Regions from separate parts of the Homo sapiens genome. Here all the other regions are reported to be linked to region 4. Evidence: microRNA targets listed by miRTarBase, many of them from high-throughput screens and not tested one by one. Region 4 holds a microRNA gene; each other region holds the end of a gene's coding sequence.
Evidence for each region. Region 4 holds the annotated microRNA hsa-miR-5590-3p (AAUAAAGUUCAUGUAUGGCAA, at 2,190-2,210, opposite strand). A microRNA usually pairs through its seed, bases 2 to 8, with sites in the 3' UTR of a target mRNA and lowers its output. Matches are read on the target gene's strand: a 7mer-m8 pairs with bases 2 to 8, a 7mer-A1 pairs with bases 2 to 7 and ends in A, and an 8mer does both.

Region 1 (5,391 bases), not on the chromosome of region 4:
TCGGACTTATCAGTAGGCCATACCTAAACTAGCCTGTGTATCTTAGTAACCTTCCCACTTCCACTGTTGCTCAAGTAAAACCATGCTGTTACACGCACCAGCTTGTCCATTAATTCCTCTTTTCCTGTGACTTTTTCACCAAACTGAACATATCCCAACTTCTTTCCAGGCCACTTGATTGCTCCTGGAGTTTGTGCATCATTATCACCCGAGTGGCCTTCTTAAGTAAAAAACCAGATCCTGGGCTACCCTACAGCTGGACCTTTGCAATCAGACAAACTAGGCACGTTTCAGAAAGCTGTGGTTTTAAAAGGCTCTCCAGTTGATTCTGATACATTATTGACCTATTTATTTCCATCAGCAGGGCTGAGCCTGGGCTCTTATGATGCATTTTAGCATCTTCCCCCAACTCTCCAAGACTTTCCATTCCTTCTCACTTTGGAAACTTAGAATCTCTGGGAACCTAAACTTTTTTTCCTGACCATTCATCACAAACATATGGACACCTACTAGGTGCTAGGTACTGCAGTTACAATGCAATTTGCATTAGACACTGCCTATCCCATTACCTGAAAAAAACAAAACAAAACAAAACAAAAAACACTGCTACTCAGGATTAAGCATGTATTTATTTTAGTTCAGTTAAAACAAACATACATTGTTTCATTGAAACGGTGTAGCACTCTTTGCCAACAAGCCATACTAGAATTGTTGGCCTCTAACAGTACAGTGGGGATATTTACACTATATACACAAAGTTAATACACCCAGGTTCTCAAAGGTCTTCCATTACACTAGATCACATTTTATTTCATTACACTAGATCACATTTTGATTACTGCATTTTGAAAATGTATTCCTTATTTAAATTTTAAATAAGAGATCTGAATTTGTACCAAGATTTCATGAAAAAATTTGATGTTGTTTATTGCAAATACAATTTAAACAAGTTTTTTTTAGTGTTTGTACACAATTTGTCAATTTTTCAATATTCAATTTTCTGTACAGGTACTTTTGGGACAATTCTTATAGTTACATAATGTGAATTCATCAAAATGCAGTTAAGAAACTTACAGGAATATATACACTTGAACCCAAGACCCAAACCTGACATTATATACAACCTATTTACAAATACATATGGACAGACAATATATGTACATAGATTATCATAAATATTGAAAAATAGGTTAGCTTTAATGGATTAATGTTGTTCTATAAATAACATTACAGTTGTAACTGAAACATCCACGGAAGACAGTAATGCAAAATGAGGTGACAAGACAGTGGTTTTAATACTGAAGACTGCTCATTAATGGGAATTCATTGTTCAGGAACCTCAAGGTAGACAAGATAGCTCCCAGAAAATCATCCATTGGAATTTTCCCTAGGCACTTGATTTTGAACCTTAAATAGCCAGAGGATTGGAGGAGCTTCCTCACATTAATTTGCTGTAGAGAAAAGAATTTTTTTTCCATTCCTTCCTGGTTGCCACAGTATCTTCTCCCATACAAAAAAAAAAAAAAAAGTCTGTAGAAACAACTCTTGGTATTCCCTGGCAGGTCTTAGATACAAAGTCAGCAACTCTTTCCAGGAGCTCATGCAAATTTGCCAATTCTTGGTCTCAACTAGAGGTGAGGTTCTGCATTCGAATGGAGTGCCTAAAGCCCAATTAAATGAAAGCAGTGCCGTAGAATCTGTCTTCCCACTGCCTTTCTATTTCTAGATGGCCCCCAATTATTTTATCTTCATAGAAACAGACAAAAATGGACCAACGGTTTCACCCAATGTAGCACTACAAGACGTCTTCCAGTTCCATAAGGGTCTTTAATTACACATGTATCTTGTTTGTAAATTTAGTCACATATAATACAAGAATGCGTAACAAAAACCATGTCTCCACATTTCTGGCCCTTGCCCCAAACAACATTTTTAGTTCAAGGGCAAACCTTACAGCCAGATGACCAATTGACAATTCCATTATTTGCTTCCTTCAACCACTTAATGGAATTATGTATATTAGATTTTAGACATTATGCCTGATGAGCGAAGTACCACATTATTTAATAATATATTCACCATACACTGTGACGTACGATAAATGTGCTCTTAAAGCCAAGTTTCAAAGTAATTATTTTCATTTCTAACTGGGATTGAAATGGAAGGGTTGACATGCAGTTGGACCAAAATGACTACTAACACTCAGTTTGCACTGTTTTCCCTAGCTAACCATTTGTTGGATGTAAACAAGTAATTCTACGTTGTACAAGAATGAGATGACAGTCCAGTGCAAATGAGTTTTTATAAAGCTTACTGCATGAGAAACCCAGTGGCCTACGCAAAGAGAACTTATATCATATCAAACATAGGTGTAACCTGTGGATTAGACCTCTACTGTAGACAAAACATGAACACAACTAAGCCATACATTGTCAAGTAATTCACACTTCCAGTAGGTGAGCATTTTGAAAAAGTGTACTCTCTGGACACAATAATTTTGGCCTATTGCCATCAAATGCCCATTTTCCACTGCTGGAAGCAATGTCAAAAAAGGGCTGGCCCAAAAAAAGACCCAGAGCTGTCAATACAACACTGGAGACAGATGCAACTGAATAAACCCTGTTTTACCCAATTGCACTATTTGGTACCTCAAAATTAGTTATTTTATTTCCCACAGAAATATCTGCATTATCTTCCATTCTAATAAGTTGAAGACACAAACATTTCAGTCTGAATGAACCAAATTGTTTGGGGACAGAGAAGAAAAGTGATGAACAGAGTTCATCTGATTTGGTATAGCAATAATCAATCATCTTTTAAGTAATGGTGACGTTTAAATGGAAAAAACTATGCTCCTAATTCATGGTACAATTTTTCATTACATCATTTTCTCTAAAAATTATTTTGGGTAAAAAAGTATTTGGCTTATTATGCCTACAAAAAGGCAAACCATTTCATTATATTAATATTCATTTTTAAATACCAATGACATTATTTTATGGAATTTATTGATAACTGCTTCTGAATAAAGTTCAAAAAAGCAATTTCTTAAAAGTAAAAGAGTGCTTCTGAGGTCTTTAAGTATTTTTGGTACAAAAAATAATAGTGTTTTTGTCAATGGTTATTCAATATTTTGCTGTAAATTAAAAAGAATTGTTTCTCACATCAAATGGTTCCATTAGGCACATTCAAGTAAAATCATAAAATATCCAAGTTAAACAATGACACAGCCAAGCATGTGGCTTGATAAAAGTTAAGAGTTTGTCCATTCTCTGGAATGGAATAAAATTGTCACTTCCCTTAACCCGAGACTCGTGGTTTTGTTGTTCATATCCATTTCTAACATACAGATAAGTTTCTTAAAAAAACAAAACAAAACAAAAAAGTTCACTTATTCTGCACTCAGAAGAACCAGCGAGGAATCTGCACTTCAAAAGGAAGTGAAACTGAAAACATTAGGTGAAATTTCATAGTAGTTGAGTTTACTCAACACTGGCATCAGATGGACTGAGTTTGAGTTTGAGTGGTGCCAATTAATGGCCACCTCCAGGTGCATTGTGTACCCAATCCAAAACAATCAAGGCCATGCTTCCGGTCATCACCAGTACACCACTTAACAGGAAGAACAAAGCCTGCAAAGAGCATAGAGAAAATTGATCAGCAAGTAATAAAACATATATGCTAAACATTTCTTCTATTTTTTGAAATGTGCTTTAATTACTAAAATCTATCCACTATATAATCTATAGAAAGAATATTTAACTTGCTAAATATAAACTCCTAAGTGATCAGTATGTTATCTGCAGTACACAATAACTACCTTTGAGGCCTTCTGAACTTTTTCACTTTTTCATTCCTTTGTCTCAAGTGACAGGGAATTTTCTTGCTAAACAAACTGCTTCATATAGAACTGGACTGGATTTTTTTTTGCAATTTTTTAGAATGAAAGTCAAGTCACAAAATCAAACCCAAATCATCCTAAAATGCAGCAAAAGTCAAAGCCAGAGGTCTTTCCAGGAAATACTAATTCCTAAATCCTACCCTTCAATACTGCCACTATGTAATTTAGAGTAAAACAAGATGACAGTTGTTGGTTTATAAACAATTCTAGTACTTTAATCAGAGCAGAATGAAGGAGAAAATAATGACTAAAAAGCAGTCTTTTTCCTAAATATCACCACCAGGATTCTGGTTCTAGGAACCACATCATTTGTGGTTAGCACATCATTCTCTGTCACCAACTGGTACTACACTTTAGAGTAGATACATAATAGTAAACACCATGAAGAGACGGCCTCCCTGAGAGCTTCGCTCTGAAGATGGTCAGTCTCATTCAACTAAACAGCCCTTCCTTCTCTTTTATATATTCAATGCCCATTTAAGTGCCTGTCACACAGTAGGCAGTCCAGTGAAAACTGGTTGAACAAATGTTGAAAGCTGAGTATCTCATCTAGTCTTCATCCCTATTCCTATCTCCAAAGTATCTAATAACTTTATTGCAATTAATTTAAGTGTTCATTAGATGGCAAACTATCTTTCCCCTTCCCTCTGCAATCTTCCATCTGTGAAGTATACCATTACAGAAATGTTTGCTGGAAACTTAAAAGTGAAACCATAACAAATAACAGCTATGAGAATAAAATTAAAATCAGTTGGGGAAATTTATGATATTATTACTGTTTCTATGGTTATAATCTTTCACTCACCCCAATCTTTTGTACAGATTTCATAGGTTCTTTCTTCACCAACTTGATATAGAAGGCAGAAGGAAGAATAAAAATCAACATAGAAGCTGCAGATGCACCTGTAAAACAACATTTATGTTTCTTGAGGATTCAATGAACCACTCGTCATTCATTCTTTAAATCTTAAAATCCCTGATGTTTGAATCCACTTGGATACTTTCTAAAACTTACCAATAAAACCAAAGATATCCCTAATAGTTGGGACAAAGATGACAAGTAAATTGGTAAATGCCAAGATAGACACTGTAATGAGACTATGACGCCACCAACTGAAATCTTTTGATGCACACAACAAGTGAGTTACAGAACTCCGGATCTGCAAAAAAAATAAATAAAATGTATTTTAAAAATAGCAGCAATATAAAATTTAAAAATCCAGCTTCAATGAATGAAAAGAATGCCCAAGTAACAAGGAATCTATCCAAAATAGTAACTATTTCTAAATAAAACTGTGCCTCTTTCTCTGCTGTTTCCTGAACATCTGAACACTTAAAGATCATTTTATATCTTATGGTGAAAAAAATGTCCCCAGGGTATTTTGAAAATATACACTGTATTTTTAAAAAGCCCCTTCAAAACCACCACCAACTTAGTATTGTTCTACTGGTGTTTCCCTTCTTCCAGAAGATGAAAATCTCACCAATAT
Region 2 (5,427 bases), not on the chromosome of region 4:
ATTCCATTTCCCCCTATTGTCCTTTACACTATTGTTGTCATACTTTTTATTTTTGAGATACTGTCTCACTCTGCTATCCAGGCTGGAGTACAGTGACGTGATCATAGCTCACTGCAGCCTCCAACTCTTGGGCTCATTTGATCCTCCTGCCTTGGCCTCCCAAAGTGCTGGGATTACAGGTGTGAGCCACCACACCTGGCCTAAGATCCATTTTTAAACTTTGCTATGGTAAATCCATAGTAGCCTTAATTTAAGGGACCACTGGTCTTATTACAAATTTTAACACTTTTGGAGGCTTCAGTGAATCCCTTAGTTGGTGACACAGGACTCTAGTGGTCAGATTATGTTTCCTCACCCTGTATGAGCTCTGAGAATTGTTCTTCTGACTCCCCATTCTATGCCCAGCCTCCTTTCCTCCAAGATAGTAATTCATTTTACTCATTTAATGAGTTAAGACCATTTAACACAAACTCTTTCAACTTTCCATGTCACTTTTTCTTCTGAGGTTAATCATTCCATCAGTATCCTGTTTAGTAATACATTGCACCATTATGTTTCCTCAGGAACAGAGCTAGAAAGTTAACCCAAGGTAACCACTTAGGGCCATGCTTCTCATAAGCAATCTGGTCTAGTAATACATTGCACCATTATGTAATACACTGACTCATGGTCAACTTGGGTTAACATTGTAGCTCTGTTCCTGAGGAAACACAATGGTGCAATGTATTACTAGACAAGACTGCTTATGAGAAACATGGCCCTTATGTGATAAATTACACCTAGACTGGGAGAAACAATGAATACCTGATGGGAAGACATGGCCTTGTGTTTCTCTGAATACAATGACTTGTAAATGCGGCATGCTCCTTGCAGGGACCTAGAAACTATGTCCATGAAGCTATTACAAGAGTTAGTGGCTCTTGTTGTACATGAAGCTTCTAAGTTGGGGTAGCTCTTGCACTTACCTAAGTCTTATCTCTTGCATCTGAGCTACTGTGTGTTTCCGTGTGTTCGGAGGATAATTCTTGGATGGCTGTGTGAACTGCCATGAGGAATACTCCCGTGGAAGAGAAACACTTGATGATGCTGGGCTGGCAAGCTGTTTTCTGTGTCCCCTGTGCTTTTGATTAAATTGGTGCCAAGTAAGACCTCTTCAGGTCTTGTGAATCCAAATATTTGATTGAGTCTAAAAAGGTCCCTTTGACAAGAATTAGAGGTCCATTATTTAGCACAGCTATTCATATTATGGGGCTCCCCTTCAAGGTCTTTGAGGTTAAAACCTTGTCTTTTTCATCTAGCAAAATTTTGGTATTGCTTTGTGATCTGGTGAATCACTTAGGCAATCTAAATTTTTATTTTTATTTTTACCATTAATAGAGATATAATTATTTCCTATCTCAAAGGGTTGCTGTGATGATAAATATGTAGAAATATTTCCTAGGCAGTAAAATGCTATGTCTAAGTGGCAATACTAGTATCATTATGCTAACATATAAATTAATATTTCTTCCAAAAGTATCCTTAGGTTGGGTGCAGTGGTTTATGCCTGTAATCCCAACACTTTGGGAGGCCAAGGCAGGTGGATCACTTGAGTCCAGGATCTCAAGACCAGCCTGGGCAACATAAGGAGACCTCATCTCTACAAAAAATAATTTAAACAATTAGCTGGCCATGGTGGTGTGCACCTGTAATCCCAGCTACACAGGAGGCTAAGGTGGATCACCTGAGCCTGGGAGATTGAGGCTGCAGTGAGGCATGATTGCACCACTGCACTACAGCCTGGGTGATAGAGTGAGACTGTCTCAAAAAAAAAAAAAAAAAAAAAAAAAAAAAAAGAACATGAACATAAAAGTATCCTTACAAATATAGTAACATTAATCAATTTATGTATCAATCCTGATTTTCATTCCAACCTTCAAATGATTAGTTAAAACAATTTGATAAAGGAAGACCATCCTGATGTAAAGTTGACAATCATACTGAGAAAACTACCCTGTCCTCTCTCCCCCAACCCAGCCTGGTCTGCTTTTAGGACAGTACAAAATTATTTGCTCATCCCTTAAGTCCCTCTCTTGCTGAAAGTAAAACAGTTCACTACTACTTCTGTCCCAACAATGGGAGTTAAGACACATAACCTGTTTGAGCATTTAGTAAGTTGCTGGAAATATATTAAGCCAGAGAACTGGAAGGGAAGTGAGATCGTTGAACTCTTTTTATACTCCTGGGACCTCTTAAATCAAGCACTACAGGACAGAAATGGCCATTATCAAGAAATATTTTAGAAATTCTCAGGTATATAAATTTAGATTATAAATCTGGATTAGAGAATCGGAAATTGTATAATCTGTCTGGGAGGTTTCACCTTTATGTAGCAGTATAAAATATCACTTAATAAGCGGAAATCAAACCTGTTTTACTTGTGGTTGGGGAAAGGCCAATCAACCAACACTCTAAATCTCTAACACAAGGACAGTGGTTGTACCTAGGCCAAACCACAGAAACTTTCATTGCACATTTCACCTTCACAAAAAGGCTACTTTAGGCTCTTTTTCTGTGTATTATGGGACATAGACAAATGTTTCTTTGTATTTATTCCAGTTCTAGTCTTCCTTAAGCTTTTAATGATTCCAAACACTGCTCCCCTTCTTTTTGTTCTCATCACTCAACATCTAGAACCCAGATACTTTCTCACATTCCTTTCTCATATTTTCCTCTGTAAGCCCAACACCAGAAATGGTACTATATCTGAGAATCAAGGGAACTCATTCCCTTCAGATCTGCTCTAGAGTATTTAAAAAATAAATTAATAAATAAATAAAGCCAAAGATCCTCTATTTGTTAAAGAAATAAAACTATTTTAGCAGGACAGGCCAAATGAAAAACAGGACAATCAGATTACTTTTGGATCTATTTCTTTTTGTGTGAGATTATTTTAGCTTTATTTATTTTTTTTTTGAGACAGAGTCTCTGTCACCCAAGCTGGAGTGCAGTGGTGCAATCTCGGCTCACTCACTGCAACCTCTGTCTCCCTGGTTCAAGGGATCCTCCTGCCTCAGCCTCCTAAGTAGCTGGGATAGTACAAGCGTGTGCCACCATGCCCGGCTACTTTTTGTATTTTTAGTGGAGACAGGGTTTCACCATGCTGGTCAGGCTGGTCTTGAACTCCTGACCTCAAATAATCTGTCCACCTCAACCTCCCAAAGTGCTGGGATTATAGGCGTGAGCCACCGCACCCGGCCTATTTTAGCTTTAAAATTTGGTTGGTTTCACAGTGAAACATTAACTACAACTCTACTTAATTTTGTCAGGTACCCTAAAATTCTAATAATCTCTTGGTACAGTGATAACATTTCATTAACCAGATTATTCTATAGAAAAACTGAGCACATATGAGTATGTTCTAGGTAAAATTTTGTCTTGCATAAAACAACAAAAAAAATAGTTAAGGCCCTAATGTGCAAGTAGAGGCAGGAACAGGGGGATATTAAACCAATCATGAGCCTTCCAAAAAACTTTCAATCTTATGCTGTGTCAAGATATCACTGGCTGTTGGTAAAGTGCTAATAGCAGAATCAGAGAGTGCTCATGTACTTGCTGATTGAAAATACATGATTGACATGATTGGAAGTACACTCCAGCTTGGGTACAGAGTGAGACTGTCTCAAAAAAACAACAACAAAAAAGAGACAAGACTATCTTACACTTTTTTGTGGTTTTTCCCTTGCCCTTATAGCTTCCCTACAGTAGTGGGTAACTAGTATCCAACTGAAGGCTCTGAAAAGGGCACAAAGACCTCCTAGAAAGAGTACTTCATCTGATCAACACTAAGAAGTTCATCTGTCTGCTGCTGCTGCTGCGGACAAGCTTTATCACCAGAAAGTCATTTATAACGTTTGCGTCAATAGTAGGTACAAACCTTGGAGCTATAATTAAGATTCATTTAATTATGCTGGAAAAGTGAGGTAAAAGTGTTATTAGCTTCACAGCAAAATGTGTTGCGCACTACTTAAACTTTCTTCAAATTCTTTGTGTAGCAGCTATTGGTTTTTAAACTTAAAATGAAAAAATGCTTTGCAAGAAAATTCAATGTTCAAAGACAAAAAAAAAAAAAGCACTCAGGGAGAAAATATAACTAAAGGACATTTATTTATTTTTACCAAGACTTTATCTTGAGGACATGGCTAAACTGCATTTCCACCCCCCACCCCATCTTGAAGAAGGGTTAGTATGTGAATGTTATAAAGTAGATATGAACAGTTGAAGGACTGGAACCAACATTAAGTGACGAAGAACAACTTCCATCTAAATCATCATAAAAATGTTTAAGTAAAAAAAAAAAAAGAAAGAGAAAGAAAAAGAGGAGGTAACGGGGGTTTCCGATTGAACAAGATCCTCACATTTCATCTAATACAGTCAATCTTGGCTAGAGTATAACAAAGTGGAAACAGGATTACTATGATACAAAACTTCCACTACAGCACGCTGTACACACCTGTGTTCCAAGCCCACCCCAACCCCCCCAGTGCTTCCAACACAATTATTTCCCAGCCTGTTGGGCCTGCCGACGAAGGAGCACGTAGATCTTCTCTTTAATCCAGTCTTTGTTATAAGGCTGGTATGTCTGGGTATCAGCTCGGTAACTGAGGAGAGAAAGGGAATAAGCAAAGTCACAGTGGTCAATCACTGCCAGGTGTTTAAATCCCCAAATTATAACTGCCCAATGATGGCATAGATGTGCACATTTCCAAAAATGAACTTAATGAAAAGCTGAAAGAGCTACTTACACAGTCGTTGAATTTTAAGTGACATGAACTTTATATCACCTAGTACAATCTTATAGTGGAAAAAGAAAACATGACTTAGAATTTTTAAGTTAAATGCCCAATATGTTACATATCTACTTCTTGACAGAGTATGACCAGAAACCATGTGTTCTTCCTCCTACATAGTTTCTATTTTTATGGTTCCTTTAGTGATTAAAAAACAACAACAAAAAAATTGGCTGGGTGCAGTGGCTCATGCCTGTAATCCCAGCACTTTGGGAGGCTGAGGCGGGTGATCACTTGAGGTCAGGAGTTCAAGACTAGCCTGGCCAACATGGTGAAACCTTGTCTCTACTAAAATACAAAAATTAGCTGGGCATGGTGGTGCACGCCTGTAGTCCTGCCTACTCAGGAGGCTGAGGCAAGGGAATTGCTTCAACCGGTGGAGGATGCAGTGAGCCGAGATCGTGCCACTGCACTCCTGTGAGTGAGACTCCATCTCAAAAAAACAAAAACAACAATACTAGAACAAACTTTAGATTTGCAATGTTTATTCTGAATTAACTAAAAAACCTTTAAAAAACATGTACTGGCAACAAAGATTTCTTGCTAATTTCCTTCCCCCTGTAAAGTATTAAGGAAATCTTAAACCTATATTTTAGGA
Region 3 (5,427 bases), not on the chromosome of region 4:
CATTTCTACCGTCGAGGTGGTTGAAATTCAAAACTGCACCCGGATAGGTTGTTATACCCCATTATTGGAATGAGTGGATGGATCAGGTGGGTGGTAGCCGATGAAGCTCTCACCCCCGCCCATTCAGCAATCTTCCCTGTGTATTCCCATTGACCCCTCTTGTATGACCTCTAGAAGCCTCCACCATGCCCATATCTGCCTTGCCCCGAACGAGCAGTGACCCGGTGTTGCTGAAGGCCCCTGCTCCCCTGGGAACTGTTGCCGACAGTCTCAGGGCCTCCGATGGGCAGCTTCAAGCCAAGGCACCAACGAAGCCCCCCCGGACACCCTCCTTCGAACTGCCTGATGCCTCTGAACGTCCCCCGACGTACTGCGAGCTGGTGCCCCGAGTGCCCAGTGTCCAGGGAACATCCCCGAGCCAAAGCTGCCCAGAGCCAGAGGCCCCATGGTGGGAGGCCGAGGAGGATGAGGAGGAAGAGAATAGATGTTTTACAAGACCACAGGCTGAGATCTCTTTCTGCCCCCATGATGCCCCCTCCTGCCTGCTGGGCCCCCAGAATCGGCCCCTGGAACCCCAAGTCCTGCATACCCTCCGTGGCCTGTTCCTGGAGCACCATCCTGGGAGCACCGCCCTTCACCTGCTATTGGTAGACTGCCAGGTGGGTCACCTCCTGGGATGCTCCTCCCCAGGCCCAGGGCAAGACCCAACCATGCCTACATAATCACGCTTCACCTGACTTCCCCATTCCCTTCTGCAGGCCACAGGCCTCCTGGGAGTGACCAGAGATCAGCGGGGCAACATGGGAGTCTCATCTGGCCTGGAGCTGCTCACTCTTCCCCATGGACACCACTTGAGGTTGGAACTGCTGGAGAGGTGAGCCAGCAGCTTGTAATCTTGGTTGGGGGAGGCCAATTCCCCCCACTTCCCAAGATCTCCAAACAGCTCCCCACTCATGGTTCCCCAGGGAAGAAGGGAGATGGGGCAATGCCACCTCCTGTCCCCCCTCACCCCTGCATTACAAACCTCCCCACTTCCCCCAGACCCTTGCCCTCCACCTCTGCAGGCATCAGACACTGGCGCTGGCCGGGGCGCTGGCGGTGCTGGGCTGCTCGGGGCCGCTGGAGGAGCGCGCAGCCGCACTGAGGGGACTGGTAGAGCTGGCGCTGGCGCTGCGGCCAGGGGCGGCGGGGGACCTGCCCGGGCTGGCTGCAGTCATGGGCGCCCTGCTCATGCCCCAGGTTCGTGGGGAGCAGGGACTGGAGGAAGCTGGAGTGCGGGTGACTGGGAAGACTGGAGAGGAGGCGTGCTCAGATCTCTTCTCCCAGGTGTCCCGGTTGGAGCACACGTGGCGCCAGCTCCGAAGGAGCCACACGGAGGCTGCGCTGGCCTTTGAGCAGGAGCTGAAGCCGCTGATGCGGGCTCTGGATGAGGGCGCTGGTAAGTGAAGGTCTGGGGCTTAGCATCCCCTGGGGGCCCAGACCAAATTTAACAGGACTCAATCTAGTCCTATGCCCAGTCCCTGCATCTGTTCTAGGCCCGGTCCCTTCACCATAGGCCCCGCCCTCCACATGAGGGTTGGTCCTGGCCCTTTCCCTAGGCCCCGCCCTCCACACGAGACTTGTTCCTAGGCCACGCCCCCACCAGCCTTGGTCCCAGCCCCTTTCCCTAGGCTACGCCCCTTCGCCATAGGCCCCGCCCTCCATACGGGGCGTGTGGTCCTGGCCCCTCTCCACAGACCCCGCTGTCGCTCAGTCCTAAGCCCCGCCCCTGCATTTGTCCTAGGTTCCACCTCTGCCCTATGCCCCATCTACAGCCCCAAACCCTGATCAGACCCTCCCCCTCCGCAGGACCCTGCGACCCCGGCGAGGTGGCGCTGCCGCACGTGGCACCCATGGTTCGCCTACTGGAGGGCGAGGAAGTCGCGGGGCCGCTGGACGAGAGCTGTGAGCGGCTGTTGCGCACCCTGCACGGGGCGCGTCACATGGTCCGGGACGCACCCAAATTCCGCAAGGTGGCAGCCCAGCGCCTGCGAGGTGAGCGTTCCCTCTGCGCTGGACTGCAGACTTCAGAGCACCCTGCAGGTTCTAACCGGATCCCCCAAACCCAGCCTGTCCCAGGAGGGGAGCCTCTCGCCACGCCTCCCGGAGCCCCACCCAAACTGGGACGGCTCCACTCCAGGAAGGTTCTCACCCCAAGCAAACGCTGCATCCAGCGGTATTGATAGGAACAGGGCCGTCCACCTCAAAACGGGCTGTCCTGCCCCCAGAGCCACCTCCGCGGGTCCCCACTCCCCCTTCCCACCTAAGACGATCCCGTCCCCCAGGGATCTCGATCCCCAAGAACGCCCTGCTCCCTCCAAAACGACTCCTCCGTCCTATCCTAGGGCAGCCCACCCGGCAAGATCCCCCCACCTTCCCCGACAACCTGGGATCCCGTCCTCGGGGCAGCCCCACGTCCAGGCACAGCCCCTAAGGCGGGACCTCCAGGATCTGGCACCTGGAACAGGCCACCCCATTGCACTGCGGTAGAGCCCCTCAGGCACCCCACCCCCATTCCTGCAGAGAGCTGGAAGCCCCCTCCCCTCTGACCCCGCCTAGTCATCCCGCAGGTGGGGCAGGTCCCTCCCGGGCCCCTGTTGGGTCAAAGTCCTCTGGGGAAAGGAAGGTGCCGGGAGGTTGGGAGGGGCGAGGCGGGCGCCTGGGCCCCGCCCCCAGCCCACCTGACCTTGCTTCCAGGATTCCGGCCTAACCCGGAGCTGAGGGAGGCCCTGACCACCGGCTTCGTGCGGAGGCTGCTCTGGGGTAGCCGGGGCGCGGGAGCTCCGCGCGCTGAACGCTTTGAGAAGTTCCAGCGCGTCCTCGGCGTCCTGTCGCAGCGCCTGGAGCCTGACCGCTGAGAGCGCAGACACCCTTCTTCACACCCGGGACCCCCAGGTTTTTGCGAACCCCAGAAGAGACCAAAGGAGTCGTCCCAGGCTCCTCGCGCCTCAGGTGGAATCCTGCCCTGTGCCTCACAGAAGAGGTGGGGACCGCAGTCAGGGTCACCTGGACCATGGTGAACATGTGACCTGCAGATCTGGCATCAGAGGCCAGAGTTCAAATGTGACTCCACCTCTTAAAAGCCGTGATTTCTAGCAGTTGACTTCACCTCTGTGTCGGCCTTTAACAAAATCATAGCCATACAGCAGCTCAGGCCTGTAATCTCAGCACTTTGGGAGGCCGAGGCGGAAGGAAGGCTTGAGGCCAGGAGTTCAAGACCAGCCAGGGCAACATGGTGAGACCTCATCTCTACAAAAACTGAAAAATAAAAAACTTTTAAAAAATGTAAAAGTTGAGGCTGTGTACTTTCTAAGAATTGTGGCCAGGAATGAGACCCCAGGTGGAGAATGCCTGGCACACAGTAGGTCTTCAATAAGTGCTACCCATTCTCAGAAGCTGCAGTGCATTCAGAAGGGATGAAACTTGGGTGTCCTGGCCAGGTGCGGTGGCTCACGCCATAATCCCAGCACTTTAGGAGGCCGAGGCAGATGGATCACTTGAGGTCAGGAGTTCAAGACCAGCCTGGCCAACATGGCAAAACCCTGTCTCTACAAAAAATACAAAAATTAGCTGGGCATGATGGTGTGTGCCTGTAATCCCAGCTACTTGGGAGGCTGAGGCAGAATTGCTTGAACTCGGGAGATGGAGTCTGCAGTGAGCTGAGATCACGTACGCCACTGCACTCCAGCCTGGGCAACTGGGTGAGACTGTCTCAAAAAGAAAAAAAAAAGAAACTTGGTATCCTTCTCCCTACCTGAGTCACAAGCAGACACCCACTGACAATGACATAGGCCAACTTCCAGAAAGGGGCAGGGTTGACCCAAGGTGTGCCCAAGATCACCTCCCCTTCCTCATTCCCTGTGTGGCCTGTAAGAAACGTGGTGTTAGATACTTCCAGTCCCAGTATTTAAATCCTCTAATAAGACACCGACTCTAGGAACTTTATATAATTTCTTTTTTTTTTTTCCCATTTTTGTATAAAACAAAATGGCCGGAGCCGAGCGGCAGAAAGAAAAGATGTAAAACATGAGTATGTACATCAATGGTGGAACGATGGTAGAAGGCACAGCGGGTCCGTCCGGTGTGACAGGTAGGACTGGGTTGGGGGTGGAGGGGGCAGCAGGTTACACAGGTCTCAGCCGAAGCCACGGGGTCAGAAATAAAGTGCATAGGTCCTGGGGCTCCCCGTGGCCCAGAAGCAGCAGCCGACAGCCCCCCTCTTCCCGTCTCTGGCAGGGTTCAATTGAGCGTGACTCGGAGGTAGGAGGTGGGCACGTAGCCCTCGCCTCCCTCTTTCCGCCTGACCCGGGTCCAGCCGTCCCCTTTGTCTTCTTCCATAAGACTGAGGTCTTCACCCTCGGCCATAGAGATAGTGCCCTCGCTGGACCCTGTGATGGGGGTGGGGGTGGGCCCAGATCTGCTTTAGGCAAAATTTATTATTTTTATTTTTTATTTTTGAGACAGAGCCTCGCTCTCGCCCAGGCTGGAGTGCAGTGGCACGGATCTTGGCTCCCTGCAACCTCTGCCTCCAGGTTCAAGGGATTCTCCTGCCTCAGCCTCCCGAGTAGCTGGGATCACAGGCGTGCGCCACCACACCTGGCTAATTTTTGTACTTTCAGTAGAGATGGGGTTTCACCGTGTTCGCCAGGCTGGTATGGAATTCTTGACCTCAAGTGATCTGCCTGCCTCAGCTTCCCAAAGTGCTGGGATTACAAGCCTGAGCCACCCGCCCAGCCCTGCTTTAGGCGAATTTAAACTGAACCTAGCCAGAGACACTGCCTCCCATACCCCGCCAAGCCCACTCTGGCCGTTCTCACCTTCAAAGTGGTAGATGGCCACACAGTGACCTATGGGGGATGTGGGTTCCTCCTCGAAATCCTCATCAAACTCCGTGTAAATGGGGGTGTCCTGGCTCTCTTCTGAGGGAGGCTCTTCAGAGCTGTTTGGGGATAATTCGGCAGATAAAGACAGGCCCTCCTGGGACCCTGGGAACAGACCCACTCTGACGTCACCCCTCACCTCTCCTTGGTGTCCTGTGATGCGCTGTTGCTGCTGCTGTCTGGCGGGGCGCTAGCGGGGGGGTCGGGAGGCCGGGCGTGCCGGCTCAGGCTGTCTCCCCGGTTGCTAAGGACTCGACTTTCAGCTTCTGCCAGCCACGCCTGGGAGGAGGGGACAGGAAAATCGTTCCAGGGCAGAGCTCCGGGGTCAGCCCACTTTGGACCCAGAGGTTCCCTGAGATCACCCACGCACAGCCAAGGCTGTGATGGAAAACAGCTGGAGACCCCCCGCTCCGAACACCTCCCCTGTCCCCGACCCCCCACCCCACCCAGCAGTGACTCAGCCAGGCCCGCTGGCTCCCGCCCCTCCCCAGGGTCTTTCCTGACCTCA
Region 4 (5,427 bases):
TCAAACTCCTGACCTCAGGTGATCCACCTGCCTTGGCCTCCCAAACTGTTACTGTGCCTTTTCTGAAATTCTTTTAAATTGTGAGGACTTGTTTGATTTTTAGATATAAGGTAAAAAGTGCAAGATGTTCTTATAGCTTTTTAGCAATTCAGCTTTGAAACGAACACTTCCTAATTCTCTTCTTTCAAATTTCTGGATTGATTTTATTGTAGTGTATTCTGAGATTACACAATTAACTATTTTTAACTGCTTCCATTTCCAACCCTGATGTGTCAGTGGGAATGTTCTGTGTATGATGCACCGAGACAAACTACAGAAAGAAATTGGATCTTAAGTGTTATTAAGCAGGCAATTGTCATTCTTAGTTTTGTGATTTCCAGTTTTTACTATTTTAATTGATTTTATAATAAGTAAATACTATACATTTGAACTAATTTTTAAAAATAATAAAATGCCATTTTTATCTTTTTCATGATATAGCATTCTATTTTAAAACAGGGTATAACTCATATGAAACATTTTGAATCCACACTCTAAAAGCATTGTAGTGGAAGGCCCTGTCCCTCCCACAGTGAAGCTGGAACAGCCTGTCCTGGCAGAGAAAAGGGGGTCAGAAGTTACCATCACATAAAGTTGTCAGCAAACTTTAAGGGCAGACATTGCTTTTACATCAGATGCTAACATTGGTAGCACTTCTCATCGTACCTTTTTGGTCCATTTCTCTAATACGAACTTCTGGATCCCAGCAATTCTCTCGCACCACTCTGAAGACTTTCCCATCTTTCAACAACTTTGCTTCTCCCTGGGGCAGAAAACCCACATTACTAAAATGCAACCTAAGACCACTTGGACTAATCTTTCCTCATGTGCTTTAGAACGTATTTCTTCCCTAATATTTGAAAAGATTTTTACTTAATCCTTGTGGAAGTAGAAATCAGTAATTTAACAAAAATCAGCTTTCTTTCCTCATGCTTTTCTTTGGCCTAGAGTTGAAGGGGTGTGCTCTGTGGGCGTCAATGGCTGGACACAGAGATAGCAAGGTTGAGGTTATGTTTCTCTGGGCTGCCTGACTGAGAATGGCTGATCACCTTGCTGATCTGAACCCCTGGCTACTAGATACAAGAGGATGGCCCAGCGTCTGGAAAATGGTAGTTCTATAACATTTAGAATTGAAAAGAACCTTTGAGATAGACCACCTAGTCCAACCCTCTCATTTTATGGAGAAGCAATATATGGATAATGGCAGTGTATGATTTGTCAAACAGAGCAGGGCCCACTAGTGTCAATACCTGTGGGAGGAGGTGGGCAAAGAAGTCAGTCTGGTAGCAAGCACAAAATTTGGTACTGAGCTACTTCTTCCACCAGGCATCATGCTTGCCTGGGTACACAGCAATAATTTTTATACATTTTAAATGACAAATAAAAATTGCATATATTTATGCTGTACAACATTATCTTTTGATATATGTGTGCATTGTGGAATGGCTAAATCAAGCTAATTAAAATGTCCATTACTTCACATACTTATTTTTTTTGAGGTGATGACACTTAAAATCTATTCTTTTAGCAATTTTCAAGTATACAATACATTTTTATTAACTATAGTCACCATATTGTGCAATAGATATGAACTTATTCCTCCTGTCTAACTGAAATTTCATATCCTCTGACCTTCTCAATCTCTCCCCACCCCTTCAGCCTGTGGTAACCACCATTTTTCTTGATGCTTCTGTGAGTTAGACTTTTTTAGATTCTACATATAAGTACAGTATTTGTCTTTTTATGTCTGGCTTATTTCACTTAACATAATATCCTTCAGTGTTATTCATGTTGTTGTAAATGATAGAATTTCCTTTTTATAAAGGCTGAATAGTATTCCATTATGTATATATGCCACATTTTCTTTATCCATTCATCCACTGATGGACACTTAGATTGATTCCATATCTTGGCTATTTTGAATGATGCTACATTGAACATGGGAATGCAGATATTTCTTCAACATACTGGTTTCATTTCCTCTGCATATATAGCCAGAAGTAGAATTGCTGGATCATATAGTAGTTCTATTTTTACTTTTTCTCAGGAAAACATATGATCATATCAATAGATACAGACAAATTTCTACATCCTTTTATGACTTTAAAAAACCTCAATAAATTAGGTATAGAAGGAATAAAGCTGTGGGATTGCCATACATGAACTTTATTGTTGATCAACACAATAAAGTCTATGTATGGCAATCCCACAGCTAACATCATACTTGATGGTGAAAATGATGAAAAGTTGAAAACTTTTTCTCTAAGATCAGGAACATGACAAGGGGGCTCATTTTGCCACTTCTCAACATCATAAAGGAAGTTCTAGCCAGAGCAATGAAGCAAGAAAAAGAAACAAAAGTCACCTAAATCAGAATGAAAGAAGTTAAATTGTTTTTGTTTGCAGACAACATGGTTTTATACATAGAAAACCCTAAATATTCCACCAAAAAACTGTTAAACTAATAAATTGGGTAACGTTGCAGAATACAAAATTGATATATAAAAGCCCATAGCATTTCTGTATGTTAACAATCTGCAAAAGATATCAGGCAATCCCATTATTTATTTATTTATTTCTCGAGATAGAGTCTTGTTCTGTTGCCCAGACTGGAGTGGAGTGCAGTGGTATGATCTCGGCTCACTGCAGCCTCTGCCTCCCAGGTTCAAGCAATTCTCCTGCCTTTGCCTCCCAAGTAGCTGGGATTACAGACATGCGCCACCACGCCCGGCTAATTTTTGTGTTTTTAGTAGAGACGGGGTTTCACCATGTTGGCCAGGCTGGTCTTGAACTTCTGACCTCATGATCCACCGGCCTCAGCCTCCCAAAGTGCTGGGATTACAGGCATAAGCCACTGCTCCCAGCATTAGGCAATCCCATTTAAAATAGTATTTAAAAATACTTAGGAATGAATCTAACCAAAAAGGTGAAAGATCTGAAAACTATAATACATTGATGAAAAAATTAAAGAAGACACAGACGAATGGAAAAACATCCCATGTTCGTGGATTGAAAAATTGATATTGTTTAAATGTCCATACTACCTAAAACAATCTATAGATTTAATAAAATGCCCCCCAAAATTCCAATGACATTTTTACAGAAATAGAAAAAAAAACCATACATTTCATGTAAACCACAAAAGATCTCAAATAGTCAAAGCAATTTGGAGCAAACAGAACAAAGCTGGAGGAACTAAAAACCTTTTGCACAGTAAAGGAAACGATCAACAGAGTAGAGAGACAGTTTATGGAACAGGAGAAAATATTTGTGAACCATATATCTGATAAGGAGTTACCATCCAAACTATATAAGGAACTCAAAGAACTCAATGGCAAGAAAACAAATAACTGGGTGAAAAAAGGGGCAAAGGACCTGAAAAGACATTTCTCAGAATAGATATACAAATGGCCAATAGGTATAAGAAAAAATGTTCAACTTCACTAATCATTGAGAAATGAGATATCATCTCATACTTGTTAGGATGGCTGTTATCAAAAAGACAAAAGATAATGTGTTGATAAGGATGCGGAGAAAAAGGAACCCTTGTATGCTCTTATTTGGTAACTGGTACAGCCATTATGGAATACACAACTTTTTAATACTCAGAGCAGGGGACCAAACTAAATGGTTGTGCAGAACATGGCAGTGGCATCTACGTTGGGCCTCCAGTTTGTGATTCCTAAAGAAAAGGGGAAGAACTAGGGTAGGCCCTGGAAATAAAATTGCCTGAATTCAAATTCTTGTTCTGCCACTTACTATGTGGTCTTGAGCAAGTTAAACAATATCTTCAAGCTTCAGTTTGTTTATCTTTAAAATAGGGATGATAATGACTTACCTTAAAAAATTAATGTGACTTACATTAAAGGGATCATGTCAGCATGAAATAAGATAATCCATATAAAGCGCTTAGTGGAGTATCTGACACATAAGTGTTATTATGGTTATTTGTTATTAATGTTGTATAACTAGGGGCTAGACAGTGTTCCTCTGCTTTGAGGGCACACCACCTTTGGTGGTGCTTCAGGGCCTCAAGGTTACCTTTGGGCCCCATAGAATGTCCAAGTGGGTGTGCAATGATCAAAGGCTTTGAGCTCTGCTTGGTGGAGTCCTCTGCTCTCCTCCTCCTCCTCTTGGCTTGATCATGAATTGCATCCAAGGCTTCATCCTTCTACTCCATAGACAAGACATCCTTCTACTCCATCTCCTGCATGAAGAAGTCTGGATGCTTTTCACCTTTAAGTGCTGTAGCCTGTTCATTTTGCACATATATGAGGAAGACTTCAGATCCACATTTTATTTCTCAGGGATGGGGAACAGGTCAGTGAGCAAGTTGACTTGTGTAATTGTGACAGGTGTCCACACACTAGCAGAGCTGGGTCTCTGACATCAGGACACCAAGATTGATGTGCTTCAGCTCTGATCCTCCGTTGACCATGCCAGCATCTGAACCACTTCCTAGGTTGGGGAATCTCCTGCAGCAGTCGTGGTGGAGGCAGGGCCTAGCCTTCTTCTGCAGAAGGCCAAATACTTGCTCTCCCTGCCCCAAGCTTGGCCAATCAATGCTTGGTTTTGCATTACGTGATGCAAAAAAACAGGAAGAGTTGAATTTATTCTGCCAGTGATTCCAGCAGTGGCCATGTACAGTGGCTATTGGCAGTGGTGCTGGGGGCAGTATCCAGCTGGGGCAGCAGCCTCCTTGCCAGGCTGTTCCTGTGGTGTTGCCTTGGCTGTGGCTTCAATCATGGGAATTCCCTGAGTTTCTGCAAGTTTTCTGAGCTTGATTCCACAGATACTTTGTAGTTCTTGAGGGGCTTAAAATATTTCAACAAATTTCTTTTCTTCTTACACTAATGATTGTTGGTTTCTGTTGCCTGCAACCAAGAGTCCTGACTGATAATGATTGCACAAATAGGATATAGGAACACATGTCTTTTCATTTGGTGAAGAAGGGAGAGGAGAGGGGTGATGGTGAAAAAAAAAAGTTGAGAAACAAACTTTGATTTGGCAAATTGGAGGATTTATTTATTTTTGCTCCTTGCTGGGAAAGCTTAATCACTATAAAATACCCAGTATAGCAGAGTGCCAAAGAGCACAGTCTTTGCATTCAGACAGCTCTGGGTTTAAATCTCATTAAATTACTTAGTAGCAGCACTGACTGGTGAAGTTACGGGCCCTCTGAGTTTAAGCCTCACTTTTTCTGTCTGTAAAATGTGGATCATTATACTTGTCATGCTTGTGGCCATCCAACATCCTTGGAACACATCCTATGTGTGAAGTAACGTTCACAATTATAAATTCTGCTTTCTTGAGGTAGAATCCAAAATATGCTTTCCCAGTCTCCCTTGTAATGGGGCATTAGCATGTGCTCTGGGCTTTGCCAATTAT
Region 5 (5,268 bases), not on the chromosome of region 4:
TATTTTCAAACTTTGAATTAGATTAAACAGAATTGAATGGCTTGGGCAAAGTTTTTTCAAAATAGTTTTTGAAATGTTTTGCTGTTTTTAGGCAAAATATTGTTATGTACTTTTATGAAATATAATTAACATCTTCACATTTGTTTCATTTCTGTCCTGTGTTCATTTTCTCTAAGATATTTGTTGAGATCTTTGAATTTCCATTCTTATTCTTTTAGACTTTTCAATTTTTACCTTAAAATGTGTTATTTTGATTCTTCGAATTGTCTTTTCTGTATTGTTTAACAGAAATTGCAAATGCCTCCTTGCTCTGAATGTGAGGTGAAAAAAGCCCCAGAAAAACCATTGACCAGCTTTGAAGGGATGGCAGCTAGAGAAGAAAAAATACTGTAAATACTAAGAAACTGTGTTAAAAACGTCCATTTGCTATTGTCTTCATATTCTTTTTAGACCACAAGCTTGATGGAAATACTGTTTCTAAAGCATGCAACTTTTTCACAATTTTATGTAACTTTATAAAGTAGCCTACACATTTTCAAAGATTCCAGACCAATTATGATCCTTAAGCAATAACCTCATTGAATTGAATACCCACAGTCAGAAATATTTTGTTGTCAACAGTAAATTGTCCCATATAAATTGGTCTGGTTTAACTCAAATGCTATCTAACATGTAATTCTCCCGGTTCATTTGGATATCTAGTACTTCTATGATATAGTTGTCAAAATCAACTGGAGGATAATAAAATATTGTGGGTTCTCAGCATTCTTAGAATCCAAATTACAACCATATCAGTAAGGGTTTGGTCCACATGAGCCAACTGAAGTCATTTTCCTCAAGGTTGGAATTTGTGCCAACCTAAATACGTTGTTTCTTTGATGGTGTTTATTGCTATTGGTATTATTTTGAACTAATAACAATTATTTTGTCTAAATAATGCTAAGACAATTCTGTTAAGAATTTTGTCAGCTAACATAATTCATTAAGTATGTTTGGCATCATATGGACAAAATATTTGGATGAATGACTAAATTTCTGACACAATTAAATATTTTGGCATTCTATAGACACATCTCCTATGTATGTCTACTGTAATTAATCCAAGTTAATAACCAAGTTTTCTGAAATACTTGGCAGGATTTTTGGTATGAAGTTGGGTAGTGGAATAGGGAATGAAGAGTGAGTTCTAAAATACAAATATGAAAGCAGGTAATATATATCACAAAACAGGGGTCTGATGAAAGTACAATAGCCATGTTGATTCAATAAACCCAGATGCATATTTTTTGAAAACCAATGTGTTATTGAAACAAATCAATGGCAGTGTTAATCCATAAGAGTTCTGATTTTCTATAGGAATATCACTAATCAAAAAAATGCACTCATGAATAATTGGAAGATAGCTCACAAGCAAGAGGAATTGACCCTTGAATAATTATCTGATTAATAGGTTTCATAGGGCATTCAAAGTTGCAGACTCAGTTAATGACTACAGTTAAGTTGTCTGGACTGAAAAGTCATTTCTTTTGTTTAGAACCTTTTTGCAACCGTAGAAAGCATATTAAACCATTGGTTTTGCAGGATGGATCTGTCAAACCACAATATATACATTTGGATCAGTGTATCCTAGGAGACAGTTAATAAAAATGTATTAAAGGAAATCTTTAATCAATAAATGAACTTAGATTCTGAGATTTAATGGCATACCTCTGATCAAAATGGCATATTTAAAGAAATTTAAAGATTTGGAGAATTGGAAAATATCGTTAGCTGTAAAAGTAATATTATGACATATTTATGTAGCACTTCTATTTTCAGAATAGTTCAGTGTCATTCATTAGCACAGGCAGGTCCCAACCACAATGGTTCAACTTAACGGTTTTTTCATGATTCTGTGAAAGCTTCATAATTTCTACATGCTTTGAATTTTGAATTTTGTTATTTTTTGGAGGGCTAGTGATACATGGTCCATGAAATATTCAACACTTTATTATAAAATAGGGTTTGTGTTAGACAATTTGCCCAACTGTAGGATGAGGTATATGTTCTGAGCACGTTTAAGCAGGTTTAAGTTAGGGTGGGCTATGATTTTCCATTTAGGTATCTGAAATGCATTTCAGACTTACAATGTTTTCAACCTTTGACTTCTTTATCTGTATGTAATCCTATTGTTAAATCAAGGAGCATTCATATTTTTCATAAAACCGGCTACCCAAGGAAAAAAATAATTAGCTTTATGGATGATCCATAGAGCTTTCAGATGAAGTGACTAGGATAAAATAAAAGATGAAGGTCTGAGGTTTCTTCTGACTCCTTCATATTTCTAAAAATAATCATACAAACTAGAATACTGCTAGTCTCCCAAGTCCTGTTCCTTGTAATTCTCCCACTGTTCTCAGTGGCCCTAACCATCTCTATAGGTTCCTGACAGGGAAGCAGATCATTTAGTTTTAATTTATGTTCAGTCTCCCACCTCCACCCTGGGGCCCAACTTCCCTTGCAGGCCTTGTGGGTCCTATAGAAAGTTATTCACCATGTAATCTAGCACAGCATGTTTTGAAGCATCTTTGGAATGAAAAAAAAGAAGAATCAGGCTGTTATTTCCTGAAATTGTTATGAGAGATAACATGTTGAAAGGTAAGAACTCAGGTTGATATTAATCATGTTTTTATCAATCTTCATTTTAAAGTTGTTTTTGTTCTGTATATTCTAAATTCCTTTTATTAATTCCTGGCTTGATCAAGTGGGCTTTGGATCCATATGATTTTTTTTTTTTTTTTTTTTTGAGATGAAATCTCGCTCTTGTTGCCCAGGCTGGAGTGCAATGGAGCGATCTTGGCTCACTGCAACTCTGCTTCCCAGGTTCAAGTGATTCTCCCTGCCTCCGCCTCCCAAGTAGCTGGGATTACAGGTACCTGCCACCATGCCCGGCTAATTTTTATATTTTTAATAGAGACGGGGTTTCACCATGTTGGCCAGGCTGGTCTCGAACTCCTGACCTCAGGCGATCCACCTGCCTCAGTCTCCTCCCAAAATGCTGGGATTACAGGTGTGAGCCACCGTGCCTGGCCAGTGTGTTTTTTTCCTTTAAATATATATGGCATTATACATCCAGCAAAGTTTACTGTGTTATACTCATTGCATCATTTGTTTAAAAAAAAAAAAGAAACTTGTAGCAGGAGACATTTAAAAATATATTTAGGAGTTCCTTTTAATAACTAAGTTAGAGACTCTCTTTCAGTAAGTTCTATGACTGTACCTTAATGAATGCATTTTATTTATCTCAATTTTTATTTGCTTCAAAATAGAATCGGATAAGTTTAAAATGTTCCTCTTACATTTGTGAATGTGTCTATGAGAGAGGGGCCATTTCTCACATATTTTAATTAACAACTAAATAAACAGACGTTGTTTTAAAGGAATTAACACTTAAATCCCAACCATCCTCATATAGAATAAAATATCAACCTAAATCTTTACTATAGATAGTATAATTCTATTATGTACCTGTAATGATAAGCATTGAAAGATTATTTACATTTTGAAAAACATGGAATTGATTCTTATTAAGAAAAAAGATATTTTCCAATGGAGTAACTTGTTTTAATAGAGGTACAACCAGAACCAACAATTGTATTTCTCTATAGTTATTTTAAAATAGTAATCAATGCTATGTATTTGATGTATATGTTTCTAAATTAGAAATTTCTTTTGGCTTTGTGTTTTTTTAATGTGCGTTAAATATGTAAACTGAACCTGTTCCTAAAATGCATTAAACTTGAATGCTGTGTCTATCCAATGCCAAAATGCTCAGAAGAAAAGTGAATAATTCAGTCATTCATCTGGATGTAGTTTTCTGTGTAATCTCAAATATCTGAATATTGAAAAAACTAGGTTGCTAACTTTTTTCATTCCTTATGCAAATGTTTAGCATCATAGTGCTGTTTCAGATACAGATCTGTTTCATCAAATATCCTCAATTACAAGTCTAAGACAGTTATATGTAAAGAAAATGTATTATTTTAGATGAACAATGTGGATAACTGAACTAAAACGATATTTGTGAACTTTGCTATAATGAAATCTTTTATTTTTATAGCTCAGGTATTGTAATTAGCACTAATTGCAGCAGAGACTGAAATAATTATTGACACCGTAGAGTACCATAGAGTAGGTTGAACTGGCCAGACCTAGACAATGAAGAAAACACATACTGTTTACTTAGGAGACATTTTCTTAGTCGTGTGTATAGTCCTAAATTTCCCCAAACTATGTGTTCATTTGGATTGTGTTATATAATAACAGTCGAATGATGAAGAATAAAAGATGCTGAAAGATGGCCTATTTTTGTTCAATAAAGATTGTTACAAGAATACAATGTATATTATCTTACATAAACTAATTGAAAAAGCAGATATGAACATTAAAAATGGTACTTGCTTCTGTGTATCAGGATGTAAGAACTTTTCTTAAATAGCATCTTGAAATTTTTTTTAATCTTTCTTTGCCAATGACCCCAAAATCTTTTATTTTGCAGGTGCTTTCTTTAAAAAAAAAAATAGAGTTCCATGGTCACAGGGATTTTGTCTTTTTTTTAATTTGAATTTTTATTTTTAATTTATGAATTATTGTGATGTGTAATAGGTACAATGTGATGTATCTCTATATATGAACACACATGTAGCGGAATGATTATATCAAGCTAATTAACATATCCATCACCTCACAAATTAATCTCAAGTGCTTGGAGCTAGCTGCCTCATACAAGATGCTCAAACATTTGTTGAATAAATTAATTTAGAGGCTGAAGCAGCAAGGGAACAAGCAGGGGAGCAGCAAGGGAGCATGTATTGGCATGAGAACAGAGAACCATAAGAACCAAAAATAAGCATTTTGTTTCGTTTGTTGCTTTGTTCTTAGACTATCTTTTTTTTTTTTACTTTTTCTTTTTCTTTTTCTAAAAGCTTTAATAATAGGCCTGTGGCTGGGATTTTCTAAGCAGAGTAGATAAGGCACTCCTGGGTAAATTTTGAAATGTAGGTCAATGCAATAGAAATATTTCACGTGGACTTTATGAGTCTTTAATTGACACCCACTTCTGACACATACTTGGACATGCACAGGTCACTTCTTTTAGCATTCGTTTCCTAATCTATTGGGTCTTAAGCAGTTGGCTTAAAACAGAGATTTTCTTCTACATTCTGAAGAGACCTAGCCCTTTAGTAAAAATAACTCTAGGGCTACCGAGAGGTAAATGAATATCAAGAG
Region 6 (5,427 bases), not on the chromosome of region 4:
TATGATCTGCCCGCCTCCGCCTCCCAAAGTGCTGGGATTACAGGTGTGAGCCACGGCGCCCTGCCGACAGTTTTAATTTACATACTAATGCTGGAAAACATTTTGGAAGGCAAAGAAGAACATTCACTGGTCTTAGCAATAAATAGAATAAAAAAGAAAAACGTGGACAGAAAGGTGGTTGAAAGGCTCTAGGCAAAATGGTCTGGGTTTATTTTTTTCTATAGTAATTTCAGATTATCCATCATTCACTGTAATAAGATACCATTTCAGTGGTGGAGTTGCATAGTCTTTTATTTTTCTAAAGATGACCATTCCATGTTTAATGTCTTCAGAGAAGATCTAAAAATCAAAGTTAACAACCCATTTGTCCCAACTCTAACTCTTCCTGGGAACAATTCCTCATTCTGTTACTTGATTTCTTCCTTTACCACCCACATAAAATATGTCTTACTGCTCACAAGATCAAAAGAAAACAGAACAAAACATTGAAACATCAGAATTGTTTAAAACACTAGATTTCATTCAATGGTCCGATTGGACACTTGCTCATTGGAACTTATTTCTGCTTCAGCTCTAGTTCTTTGAGAAACACAAGAATTCCTTTCACCAAAATATTAGCCTGACACAAGAATGTTGAAAGGTTAGCTGCCTTAGCTTTATTGCTGCCTATAATCTCCAAAGATATCTGAACACCTAGAAGATTAAATGTAGCAAGAAGTGGAAGAGAAACACAGTTTATAAGTCATTTAATAACTATAATTGCATAGAATTTACTCACTTTTCAAATACTTATTCTGAATGAATACCAAATTTGTGAAACAAAATATATCCTATGGTGCTTAGAATGGTTGTTAAATGGTGAGTTAGTTTTCCAAGTAAAAACTTTACGTGCATTAACAGAGGGGAATGCATAATAATCCTATGAGGTAGGCCCTATTATCCTCATTGAATAGAAGAGAAAAGGAGGCTCAAAAAAATTAAGTAACCCACAAAAAGTCACACAGCTGTGACTGTCAGTGTCCTGCTGGGCACTGCAAACTAGGCCACTTTTAAAGTAAGATCATTTTAAATTGAGTACTCTTACTTACAAAATGAACACATTAATGTGATAATTGACAAAATATTTCAGATGCTGGACTTATAGAAAGTTTAAGGAAAACCAAGATTAAGGATTCCAGATTCAGGTAACTCTCTTTATCTTTTTTTTAGACAGGGGTCTCACTTTGTCAGCCAGTACAGTGGCGTGATCTCAGTTCACTGCAACCTCTGCTTCCCAGGTTCAGGTGATCCTCTGACCTCAGCTTCCTGAGTAGCTGGGACCACAAGTGCATGCCATCACGCCTGGCTAATTTTTTTTTTTTTTTTAGAGACAGGGTTTCACCATGTTGGCCAGGCTGGTCTCAAATCCTGAGTTCAGGCGATCCGCCCACCTCTGCCTCCCAGAGTTCTGAGATTACATGCGTGAGCCACTGTGCCAGGCATTAGGTCCCTTTCAAATTCAAGATATTCCTAATTTTTCTGGTCTACTATTGCAGGGTAAGGGAAGAATCTTCTTCCTCTTTTTTTTTTTTTTTTTTTTTTTGAGACCGTGTCTCAGTCTGTCGCCCAGGCTGGAGTGCAGTGGCGCCATCTCGGCTCACCGAAACCTCTGCCTCCCAGGTTCAAGTGATTCTCCTGCCTCAGTCTCCCAAGTAGCTGAGACTACAGGCACCTGCCACTATGCCTGGCTAATTTTTGTAGAGATGGAGTTTCACTGTGTTGGCCAGGCTGGTCTTGAGCTCCTGATCTTGTGATCCGCCCGCCTTGGCCTCCTGAAGTGCTGGGATTACAGGTGTGAGCCACTGTGCCCGACTGGTGGGAAGAATCTTCTATGGCTTAAAAAACAAACGTAGGCTGGGTGTGGTGGCTCAGGCCGGGTATGGTGGCTCATGCCTGTAATCATCCCAGCACTCTGGGAGGTTGAGGCGGGTGGATCACCTAAGGTCAGGAGTTCGAGACCAGCCTGACCAACATGGAGAAACCCCATCTCTACTAAAAACACAAAATTAGCCAGGTGTGGTGGCGCATGCCTTAATCCCAGCTACTCGGGAGGCTGAGGCAGGAGAATCGCTTGAACCTGGGAGGCAGAAGTTGTGGTGAGCCGAGATCACGCCATTGCACTCCAGCCTGGGCAACAGAGTGAAACTCCATCTCAAAAAACAACGACAACAACAACAACACAACAACAAACGCAGCAATTCCATTCCTAGGTGTACACCCAAAAAAATTGAAAACAGGTATTCAAACAAATATTTGTACACAAATGTTCACTGAAGCATTATTCACAATAGCCAAAAGAAGGAAACAACCCAAATCATCAACAGATACCGGATAAACAAAATATGATATCCATACAATGGAATATTATTTAGCCATAAAAAGGAATAAAGTACTGATACATGCTATAATGTTGGTTAAACTTGAAAATATGATGATGTCCCGGTGTGGTAGCTCACACCTATAATCCCAGCACTTTGGGAGGCCGAGGCAGTTGGATCACCTGAGGTCAGCTCAGGACCAGCTGGGCCAACATGGTGAAACCCTGTCTCTATACTAAAGGTACAAAAATTAGCTGGGCGTGGTGGTACACACTAGTAATCCCAGCTACTTGGGAAGCTGAGGCAGGAGAATCTCTTGAACCTGGGAGGCGGAGGTTGAGATTGCGCCATTGCACTCCAGCCTGGGCAATAAGAGTAAAACTCTGTCTCAAAAAAAAAAAAAAAAAGAAAAGAAAATATTATGCTAAGTGAAAGAAGCCAGATACATAAAAAGGTCACATATCATATGATTCCATTTATATGAAATATCCAGAATAGGTAAATCCACAGAGACAGGGTGCAGATTAGTGGCTATTGTTAGCAGTCGGAGGAGAAGGGAATGGGGACTAACTGCTTAATAGGTATAGGGCCTCCTTTGGGGGTGATAAGAATGTTCTGCAACTAGAGAGTAGTGATGGTTGCACACCACTGTAAATGTTCTGCCAACGAATGGTACACTTTAAAATGGTGAATTTTATGATATATGAATTTCACCTCTTTTAAGTTCCAAATAAGGCATCAGTGTAGCGGAGGTCCTCTAATCTGTCTGGTTGGCAAAGCACCTAGTAGTTTACAGTACAGAAGAAGCTTTAAAAATGCTTTTAATTTGTATAAAGTGCAAAGAAAAAGAATATTGAGAAGCACATGAAAGAATATAAAATGGCTAGAGCCTAAAAAATAAGCTAATATACACGCATAGGGACACATCTGCATATTTGAGCATACAGAGACATGTAAATACTCAGGAGAGAAATTTGCTTTTCCTCATAACTTATTTTGTGTTTCTCCAAAACCTGAAGAGTAGATAACAGCTGACAGTTACCCCCCTCTGAGTGTGACAAGAGGTCACGCACAGGGAGGGCCTCTAGCTGCCATTTCCTGTTGCTTCCCTGGTCAAACAACGCAGGCGGCTAAGTCACTTTAGGAAACGCTCAACAGGGCTCCCATTGTTCCAACCTCAAAATTCCGAGATACAACGGGCCCCATTAATACAGACAGCTTACAGGCTGGGGGATGGTCCCTTAGTGTGCAGTCCACTTTTTATTGGGACACTGAATTTTCAAAAACACTGACTTGCACAAATAGTGTTAATTATTTTTTTTAAATGGTACAGAAATAAAATTCAAAAGATACTAAACTGGGAGTCAGGACACCTGAGTCTTACCCTCAGCTCTCTGATGCGACTTTAAGCAAAGTCGCTTGCTCTTTCTGGACCTCAGTTTCCTTGTTTGTAAAAACAGAAATGATTTCTAAGATCACTCAGAATTGTAAAATTCTATGAACACTTATGAAGTCTATTGAGCTTGCGTCACTGTTCACTCCAATGAGTGGGGATAAGTTGTAAGCAGAAAAATATCATTACTTCACATCTTTTCGTTCACTATCAACACTTAAAAACAAACAGCCTTAATAAAAATCAAGTCCACTTTGTTTTCTCTCTTAAACAGACAAATCATAACGAACAGAGTCCAGTGAGTCCCTCTGTCGCAACAAGTTCAGGATCACTCAAGCAGGTAACCGCACACAACGCACAATGATGAAGAGCATAAACACAAGCCATAAGTATATTTTTATGTCGCTTTTTCTTAGGTTATTGATGCATTTCCAGAATCTCTTCATTTCTTTGCAATAACTGAAAACCCCAGAAGAAAGACACCATTTACATTAAGAATGTGATCAATGTTACAAGCTTCTGCACCATGTCATTTTTTTGTTTTTTCAACCTCAAAACTTGCCAGAGCAAGAATTTTGTCTCCAGAGCCTAAGAAAAAAGACACATAATAAACAAAAAGATTATTTCAAGTGCAGTTGCAATTCCTGGTAAAGTGGGAAAAAATCTATCATATAGATATTAAAACAGAAAATATAATTAGCCTCCATTATCAGTGTATTAACCCCTACACGTTCCCATTGCCATCCCAATTTCCTTCCCTCTGCACAAACAATCCAGCTACAAAGGGGGACTTATTAGTTATAAATCCTTATTCTAGCTATGAAATATAATATGTAAAATTTAATTTATTTATTTATTTATTTTTTTGAGATGGAGTTTCGCTCTTGTCGCCCAGGCTGGAGTGCAGTGGTGCGATCTCGGCTCACTGCAACTTCCACCTCCTGGGTTCAAGCAATTATCCTTGCCTCAGCCTCCCTAGTAGCTGGGATTACAGGCACGTGCCACCATGCCCAGCCAATTTTTGTGTTTTTGGTAGAGAGGGTTTCACCCTGTTGGCCGGGCTGGTCTCGAACTCCTGACCTCAGGTGATCCACCCACTTCAGCCTCCCAAAGTGCTGGGATTACAGGCTTGAGCCACCGCACCTGGCCATAAAATTTATTTTAAAACATTTCTGTGAAAAAAAAAAATAAAGAAAGAAGAAATATTTTTTGCGGGGAGACAGGTCTTGCTCTGTCACCCAGGCTGGAGTACAATGGCATGATCTTGGCTCACTGCAGCCTCAAATATCTGGGTTCAAGTGATCCTCCTGCCTCAGCTTCTCAAGTAGCTAGAACTGTAAGTGCATGCCACCACACCTAGCTAATTTTTTTTCTTTTTAATTTTGTTTATTTATTCATTTATTTATTTATTTGAGATGAGTCTCGCTCTGTCGCCCAGGCTGGTGTGCAGTGGCACAATCTCGGCTCACTGCAAGCTCCGCCTCCTGGGTTCACACCATTCTCCTGCCTCAGCCTCCCAAGTAGCTGGGACTACAGGTGCCCACCACCACACCCAGCTAATTTTTTGTGTTTTTCGTAGAGACAGGGTTTCACTGTATTAGCCAGGATGGTCTCGATCTCCTGACCTCGTGATCTGCCCGCCTCGGCCTCACAAAGTGCTGGGATTACAGGTGTGAG

Region 1: the mRNA of SLC38A2 is a reported target of hsa-miR-5590-3p. Seed matches in the 3' UTR shown: 7mer-m8 at 3,026-3,032 and 7mer-A1 at 2,303-2,309.
Region 2: miRTarBase lists ERH as a target of hsa-miR-5590-3p. Seed matches in the 3' UTR shown: 8mer at 4,238-4,245.
Region 3: miRTarBase lists TRIP10 as a target of hsa-miR-5590-3p. Seed matches in the 3' UTR shown: 7mer-m8 at 4,199-4,205.
Region 5: miRTarBase lists LUZP2 as a target of hsa-miR-5590-3p. Seed matches in the 3' UTR shown: 8mer at 511-518 and 7mer-m8 at 1,985-1,991.
Region 6: miRTarBase lists LZIC as a target of hsa-miR-5590-3p. Seed matches in the 3' UTR shown: 8mer at 3,187-3,194 and 7mer-m8 at 2,424-2,430.

The regions. Positions count from the first base shown.
Region 1 is chr12:46,357,578-46,362,968 of GRCh38, forward strand. It overlaps SLC38A2 (solute carrier family 38 member 2), which reads right to left. Exons shown (of 16, transcript NM_018976.5): 14 at 4,917-5,061; 15 at 4,707-4,804; 16 at 611-3,632. The coding sequence ends at 3,534. Among named protein-coding and RNA genes, the nearest start is that of SLC38A2, 12 kb to the right of the region's middle.
Region 2 is chr14:69,376,001-69,381,427 of GRCh38, forward strand. ERH (ERH mRNA splicing and mitosis factor) reads right to left here. Exons shown (of 4, transcript NM_004450.3): 4 at 4,128-4,640. The coding sequence ends at 4,538. It also overlaps a transcript of GALNT16 not described here. Among named protein-coding and RNA genes, the nearest start is that of ERH, 20 kb to the right of the region's middle.
Region 3 is chr19:6,750,063-6,755,489 of GRCh38, reverse strand. It overlaps TRIP10 (thyroid hormone receptor interactor 10), which reads right to left. Exons shown (of 15, transcript NM_001288962.2): 12 at 5,424-5,427; 13 at 5,059-5,198; 14 at 4,857-4,978; 15 at 3,960-4,427. The coding sequence ends at 4,279. SH2D3A (SH2 domain containing 3A) reads left to right here. Exons shown (of 10, transcript NM_005490.3): 5 at 175-659; 6 at 759-874; 7 at 1,065-1,239; 8 at 1,327-1,438; 9 at 1,849-2,034; 10 at 2,737-3,330. The coding sequence ends at 2,897. Among named protein-coding and RNA genes, the nearest start is that of TRIP10, 13 kb to the right of the region's middle. RefSeq lists silencers at 1,531-1,740, 1,911-2,090.
Region 4 is chr2:134,854,636-134,860,062 of GRCh38, reverse strand. MIR5590 (microRNA 5590) reads right to left here and starts at 2,243; the gene lies at 2,190-2,243. It overlaps ACMSD (aminocarboxymuconate semialdehyde decarboxylase), which reads right to left. Exons shown (of 10, transcript NM_138326.3): 3 at 706-802. RefSeq lists a silencer at 938-1,138.
Region 5 is chr11:25,078,266-25,083,533 of GRCh38, forward strand. It overlaps LUZP2 (leucine zipper protein 2), which reads left to right. Exons shown (of 12, transcript NM_001009909.4): 12 at 289-4,373. The coding sequence ends at 393. Among named protein-coding and RNA genes, the nearest start is that of LINC02699, 370 kb to the right of the region's middle.
Region 6 is chr1:9,926,120-9,931,546 of GRCh38, forward strand. LZIC (leucine zipper and CTNNBIP1 domain containing) reads right to left here. Exons shown (of 8, transcript NM_032368.5): 8 at 174-4,338. The coding sequence ends at 4,280. Among named protein-coding and RNA genes, the nearest start is that of LZIC, 15 kb to the right of the region's middle. RefSeq lists enhancers at 1,695-2,204, 4,694-5,193.